Homo sapiens: one gene and its partner. The protein of the gene in region 1 purifies or fractionates together with the protein of each later gene. This does not show direct contact. Each region holds a gene or a part of one and is shown on either strand. Other genes may lie near its edges. The genes, in order: POSTN and B9D1.

Region 1 (3,823 bases):
CAGGCTAGAAATGTACGCATTAATAAGTAAGTATGTACTGGGCTTGGATTACTCTTTGTTGTTTATGTACCACTGACCCACCTGTAAAGAAATGGCATCATTTCTTCATGGTTTTGTTCAACAAATATCTATTAAAAGCTACTCAGGACCAAGTATTGTGTAAAGTGTTATGAAAAATATGTATTTAAATTGGACATGTCTTTATTCAAAAAGTTTACAGTCCAATTTAGAAAAATAAAATGGTACATAAATGACTAAAATCGTTGTATCATTCAATACTTTCACTGCAGAATATAAAGGAAAGAACATTCACTTATAAAAAATTGTCACTCATCACAGATTAAAGGGAACGGAATATTTTTCTTCTTTTTCAATGTAGGGTAAAAGTAGCAGGAAACATAAAATTGTGTTTCATAAATATATTTAACTTTGGATTAATTATTATATAATTTTTAAATCTCTGAGTAATGAATCCAATGATTTTTATGCCCTCTGACCTGATAGCATTGAATTGGAAGATGATTTATATGAGGACTTCACTTCTATTAAGTGTAATAATAGCTTCACTATTTTTACTTTAATAAGAATTAAAGTGGTGCCATGGTTTTGTTAACACAACTATCACCTTTCATGTTACTAAATATAAACATTTATTTTCAGTTTGTTCGTGGTAGCACCTTCAAAGAAATCCCCGTGACTGTCTATAGTAAGTATATAATAAATATTGGCCACCTGGGTGGCAAGGTATGAAAAAAGAAAACAATACATTTCTTTGTATTTACAGAGATTATTGATAATCTGGTATTTAGAATTCCAAACTATGGCCAATCTCATTTCACTTGAAAAAAGGATTGAGGTCTCAGATAACCTTCAACTCCAATGAACTTCTTCCCCACTCATTGGAAAAACAGAAATGATATGACATGAGAAAGACAGCAAAATATAATATTAGCGTGGCAAAGAGCCAGGAAAATAAAAAGACATATAAAGGGAAGAGATGGCGAAAAGACCCTCTAGAAATATCTAAAAATTCAGATGTGTGGACACAGAAATGACCTTAGCCAAGACTTGTTGTTCACGCCACCCTCAAGCCCTGAGCTATCTAAGGGCAGGCTGAGAAGCACGTGTTGAAGAATACCAATGTTTATAAGGTGGCAGTTCAAAAACTCTCCCATCCAAAATTGGACAAAGGAACAAAAAAATCTGCCATGTGACAAATTTAAAGTTTCCAAATTCCAGGGTTCTTTGATCTCTGACACAACCAGATTATCAAAATTAAACCTCTACTACTTAACAATGATAAAGGGTATTTCATTCTCATAAGTGTAGCTAGTAGTATATCTTTTCCATCATGGCTTTTTCTCTGTTTATCTTTTCTCTCTTTCTTTATTTCACTGTAGCTTTCAAGCAGAAATTCTTTTCATTTTGTTTTGGCTCTGTAATTAAACACTCAAAGTGTATCAGTAGCTAAAACATTACTTCAATACCCACATTTATTCTGGCTAGAAAATCATTCCATTTTATACCATGAGCATCCAGTTATTTAATTAAGAAAATTTCCCTTAAGATTTATACTAGATATGGAAAAGGAGTAAAGCCAATGTAAGGAGCAAAACAAAATGTCTGCTGCTGTTGTTGATTTCAATTATGCAATAATAACATGCAATTCCAGGATCAGGCCAGCTCAGCACTGTATTAAAGATTTAATTGGAATAGTTATGATTCACCATGGGAATACAATCTTGTAAAAAATATGTTTTCTGAAAATTAAGCAATCCTTATGGGCTCTATTCATCAGACATGTTATGTCATCTTTCTTCATCAAAGGTATAAATATATACATATGCATATATATATATACACATTCCCACTACATTTCTTTAGCTTCCCTTCTTTATCCATCTTAGTTTCACTACTTTCTATATATGTGAATGCAATATCTTGATTACAATGAGCAAAAATATAATTATTTTCTCCTACTAAATTACATCCTCACTCACAGAGCATAAGCTACATTTTATTAAGACACACATGTTCAATGGTCCTTCCCTACCTACCCAGAGGCCTTGAAACAGCTCTAACATTTACATTCCAATGTAAGATGTTTCTTTTACTCCTCCTTAGACGGTATGCTGTTATTAAGAAGTATTTTAAAGTAGAAGTAAAGATAAATTAAACCAAATTTTCTATTTTTATATTTCGTTGTTGACTTGTTTCTAAAATTCCTATAATTTTTTGCTGCATATTATCCTCATCCCCAAAATAACATCCATTTTAAAGTGTATAGTTGAGGGGAAGGATGCTGTTTTTGGTATAAGTTGTCAAATATGGAACATTTGACCTGGAGAGGGCTAAAATCAATATTTAATCCTCAGAGCTTCACCTGTCAAAACTATTTAAGTCTGCAGAAAATCAAGATTGAAATGAAAACTACCAACCAGCTGAACATCCAAAACGTCAAATTCCTTAACATGATGTAAAAAATGTAAGCTAAAAGGAATTAGTCCATTTTGATAGCAGCAATAGAGAGCCCTGTGTATTCGTATTCGACTTTCATGGAAAGGTTCTTCTGTGGCAAGACCACCTGTGGAACTAGTACCTAAACACACAGATTTGTTTTATTTTAGAGCTTCACAATTTGAGATCTCAAAATACAAAACCTAATAAGGCTGAAACACAGGGTCTATGAAGGCTAAGAACCCACATTAATTCAAAAAGTTGACACAGCTAAACATCTTACAAGCATGAGGTGAGAACTGCAGAAACCAAAGCTGTGCTAACATCTCACCTCTACTGCTTTGATGTGATCTAGATGCACAGTTAGCTTCAGTGTGGCCCGTTATCTAATAGAACCATCTTTCAAGGCTTTTCATTAGAAATGACAAAAAGCCAGTTGCTCTGGCTGTGTGGCTTCAGAGGCACATTTCCAGTTAATCAGTACAACCAAAGTCAACCAAATAGTTGACTGGTATTTAATTTATTTTAATTTACTTTTATTATAGATCTAGGGGGGTACACACGTAGGTTTGATAGATGGATATATTGAGTAATGCTGGGGTTTAGGCTTCTAGTGAACCCATCACCCAAACAGCAAACATAGTACCTAGTTCAAAGACTATTATCTTACTTAGGTAGACGACACACGTTTAAAATATATACCTTTAAATTAAAAAAAAAAAAGGATAGTGATAACAAAGCTGAAAATTAAAGACATTTTAGCCTATAACTTAAATACTGATCATATCATGTTTGTTGAATAGAGCTCATGTCTGGCTGGCTGAAATTTATTCTTACTTTTAAGTATTCTGAACTATGTTTCATTTTTTCCTTTCTATGTCACTGTTATCAGATGCATGAAAAACATTTTAAAAGCCTTTTTCTTTCATTTTTTCTTTTAATTGAGAAAGAATCCAGCAATGCAATTTAAGATATTATGAATTGCATGACATTAATCATATTTGTCTTCTGTTGCAATGCAGCCAGTATTTTCAAGAAGTACAAAAGAAGGTAAAGCGCTTTAGCGGTACAATTAAAAATTACAGATTTCTAGATATAATTCCTCACTTTGTGAGTATATATTTCACTAGATCAAATTCAAGTCACTAGACTTCAGAGTTCAACACCTGGACATGAGAAGATATTATATTATGTACCATAAATATTTCCTGTATCTGACTGCCTGAACATATTACCACATCCTGTGCCTTAGTATCCTACAGAGACAAAAAAGAAAAGGAAAAAAAAAAAAAACCTTTGTTCAGGTTTTTATGTAAATATTTTTCATGTTCCACTTTCTATACTTTCAGCAACTAAAATTATAACC
Region 2 (3,823 bases), on another chromosome or scaffold:
GCTACTTGGGAGGCTGAGGTGGGAGGATCACTTCAGCCCAGGAGGTTGAGGTTGCAGTGAGCCATGATTGCACCACTGCACTCCAGCCTGGGCAACAGAGCAAGACCCTGTCTCAAAAAAAAAAAATGTTTTTAATGAAGAAAAAAGAAAAAGACCATCAAGTAGAAAACCGGGCAAGAGACTTGAGTAGGTTCTTCACAAAAGAGGACATCCAGGTGACCAAGAAACAGGTAAAGGTCTCAACCTTATTTCAGTAAGAAAAATCTAAAATGAAGGAAAATATAAGTTAAAGCTACAGTGAGCTACCACTATTCTCTCACTAGGACGGCTCAAATTTAAAAGATTGGTAATGCCATGTTTTCGTGAGGTACAGAGGAGCAGGAATCAGATACCACTGCTGGGGGAGTGCTGGCTGATAGGACCATGCTGGCAGCTTGGTGTTACCTTTTGGGAGGGAACATACATGGGCCCTGTGCAGTGTCATTCTTGGGTGTGTGCCCACCAGAGATGTGTGCACGCGAGTACCGAGAGCCTGCGCCATGGTGCTCAGCACTGGGTGCGTGGCCCCCAGAGGAAGGGCAGCCCATGTGTCCATCAGCACTAGAATGAACAGTCATTGTGACAGATTCCCACGCAGAATGTTATATGGTATTGAACATGAACACGCCCCTTTACAGGAAACCATTTGAGAAAATCTAATGGACATAATTTTGGATTAGAGTCTGGGCACAAAAATAAATGTACTGTATAATTCCTTTTGTATAAACTTTCAAAAACATTGGTAAAGGTAAAGTACCAGGTTTGGGATGCATTCTTTGGCAGTGAAGTCTTAAAGAAAAGTAAAGAGGTAGTTTCCTAAAATTCAGAATAATGGTTACCTTTGGTGGAAGGTAGTAATGGGAAGGGCACAAACCTCTCCCTAACATTTACTGAGCACTCACTATGCATTAGGTACTATTTCATGTGTTTTAGAGATGATGAAACAGGGGCAGAGAGGTTGGCTAACTTGCCTCAGTCGTGGCTGCAGGATCAGAGCCTGTCAGGCCGGCTCCTAGTCCCTCCCTGGGCCTCACCTGAAACTGGCGAGGTGAAAGTGCCTCATGCGCCTCAATGGCAACACGAAGCGGGTGTAAAAACAGCCACACCTATTATAGTACCTATAATATTTTAAAGGAAAATGCCCAGAAGGTTTTTCTTTTCTCTCTGACTTCTAGACACCCCCAAAATGAGCCCCTGCCACCTCAGTCCCATGAGCCCGCCTCCATCAGGAAGGGAGCACCCAGAGAGCAGAGGTCCTTAGTCGGCCCTGATCATAGCTGGGGCCCTGGGCCCAGATAAGGCCTCTGGAAGTGCCTCCTTGTACATGGAGTGACTGAGTGGGCACTGACTCCATAGCGGTGAGAAGGGGTGTGGAATGTGTGCCCAGGCCTCAGTGGAGACACAGGAAGTACCAGGGTGGGCAGAAGTCTTTGGCACAGTCTGGGTTCCCATGCCTGCTCCTGTCCCCTCTCAAGCCTGCCACCCCAGAGTTTTGAGCTCCATCCTTTGAGCACCCTCAGCTGGACACGCCCTGTTCTCTGCCCTGCACCTCCCCTGTGTGTCCTCATGTGCCCACCCCCTGCCTTGTCCTTCCCAAGGGCCACAGATCGTGCTCAGCGTGTATGGACCAGATGTGTTCGGGAACGATGTGGTTCGAGGCTATGGGGCCGTGCACGTGCCCTTCTCACCTGGCCGGTAGGTCCTCATTCTGACCTGGGCCCTGGGCAGGACTTGTCCTAGGACAGACTTCACCTCGTTTTCTGTCTTAGGTTCAGGCTGGGAATGCTCTGGGGTCTCCAGGGGCCTGGGCAGCTCAGCCTGGTGGCCAGGGGGGTTGTAGCCTGTATTTGGGAGGAGAACCTTTCAGATGGGTGGTGCCAGCCACACACCAGGTGGGTTGGGGAGGTAGTGGGACCCAGAAAAGAAAAGACCCTGAGGGACTCTGACCTCCATGAGGCTGTCTCCTGGCGCTCAGCACCTTGCCCAGACACAGGGGGTGCTCAGTTAGCACAGGTTGGATTCGTTGACATTGGCCCTGACTTGGCCCACGCTGCAGCTGCACTGGCCTGATCTGAGGGTTTCTTCTCCCTGGAGGCTCAGAAAGGTCTCTTACTCAGCATCTCTGTCTGCAAAAACATTTGTTTCAGGCACAAAAGGACCATCCCCATGTTTGTCCCAGAATCTACGTCTAAACTGCAGAAGTTTACAAGGTGAGTTTTGTACCCATAACCCCAGCCCCTCCTGATCTACTGGATGAATGGATGTCCCATTCTACCCCTCAGTTTGTGCCTGGTCGCCTCCTCAGATCTGCAAGCTGCTCCACCCACTGAGGACAAATAGAAACAGGTCCCCTGGGAGTGCTGAGTCACGGGGCTCCCTTCAGCCCTGTTCCAGCAGCAGAAGGCCGGGCGATTTTACCCTGTGCCCTGTGAAAAATCTTTGTGTCTGAGGGAGCAGAGGAAAAACTCTTGTCAGATGGGAAAAATGCTCATGACATAATGTGACATTAAAAGGTGGGAAACAAGAGGATATAGCAGTATGAGTCAGACACCTTGGAACAGTAATCATGATAAATGCCTTTACATGTGGGAGTCTCTGGCCGGAGCTGACATTTGCGCAGAGGCTTAGTGTGGAGGGAAGAGCCGGGGAAGAACATCAGGCACAGGGAACAGTGCCTGCCAGGCTGAGGAGAGCGTGAGCTTAGCATGCTAGAGAAGCCAGGACGGTGGTGTGGCCAGGACGGCAGTGTGGCCAGTAAGTGGTAAGCCAGGCAGAATGAGGGAGACATCAGGGAGGCAGGCAGGGGCCAGGACACAAGGGCCTGCAGGGAGGGCCCAGGGGATGCCTGGATGCAGCCCCAGCATGAAGGCCTCTTACCCCTGCTCACATCCAAGTGGGAGCTTAGAGGGCCAGCTGGGCCCTGGCCTTCTGACTCGAGGACCATTAGCGCAGTTGGGCAGCAAGCCTCTGCCGCCCACCGGCAGATTAGTGAGGCACAAGTGGAACATGGAGGACTCCCTGGGTTCCAGGGCAGCAGCCGGCAAGCAGCCCCTGCGAGCCTGGCCAGTACTGGGCGTGAGACCAGGCCAGAGCCCTGCTGGGTGGAGGGACAGCATCGCGCCCAGGGCCGAGAATGCTTCACTGAGCTCTGAGAGCCGTGGAGGGGAGGAAGGGCAGGGTCTCCGCTGGCCTCAGCCTGAGAATTTGTGTGCCTACTGCCCCTAGGAGTCCTTCTGGGAGGCCACCCTGTAGCAAAGGACTTCTTTCCCAGATGACCTGGGCCAGTATCACCTGGAGGTGACAATCCCCATGCCACAGGCTGTCAGGGAGGCAGCGAGGCAGTGCCCATCAGTGGGTTGGGAAAGCCTAAGAGACTGGGGACCCACACAGCCATCCAGGCTGGGTTATTCACCCTGTTCCACCGCCCACAGCTCCAAGGAGGACTTTGGGCCTCCAGGGGACAGCTCGCTGAGGAAAGGGTTTCACAGCCCCTGTGGAGGGGCTCGCAACTGGGCAAGGCAGTATGTGCTTGGATTACAAAAACTGGAGAAAGTTCTGATTAGTGAAGGCAGTTTGATTGGCAGAATCTTCCCAGATATGGAGGCTCCTTGCTCAGGCTGACACCTCGGTCATCCCCACCCCTCTCCCAGCCTCTCCCCACATCCTCCAGCGCTGGCCTAGGGCCTGCCCCAAACACTCTTGGCCACTGTATTCGTTTCCCACGGTGGCTGCTGCAACAAAACACACAAATGTGATAGCTGAAAACAGCAGAAATGTATGCTGA

What was found.
Region 2: the proteins of POSTN (region 1) and B9D1 purify together in Homo sapiens (affinity purification with mass spectrometry, with the first as the bait; one large-scale study listed by BioGRID). This does not show direct contact.

Annotation. Positions count from the first base shown.
Region 1 is NC_000013.11:37,574,636-37,578,458, reverse strand, and holds part of POSTN (periostin isoform 1 precursor), read left to right. Parts: intron 1-660; coding exon 661-706; intron 707-3,806; coding exon 3,807-3,823. UniProt on the Homo sapiens protein: Induces cell attachment and spreading and plays a role in cell adhesion. Enhances incorporation of BMP1 in the fibronectin matrix of connective tissues, and subsequent proteolytic activation of lysyl oxidase LOX.
Region 2 is NC_000017.11:19,345,695-19,349,517, reverse strand, and holds part of B9D1 (B9 domain-containing protein 1), read left to right. Parts: intron 1-1,637; coding exon 1,638-1,734; intron 1,735-2,186; coding exon 2,187-2,249; intron 2,250-2,321; coding exon of another isoform or gene 2,322-2,379; exon of another isoform or gene 2,380-2,568; intron 2,569-3,823. UniProt on the Homo sapiens protein: Component of the tectonic-like complex, a complex localized at the transition zone of primary cilia and acting as a barrier that prevents diffusion of transmembrane proteins between the cilia and plasma membranes.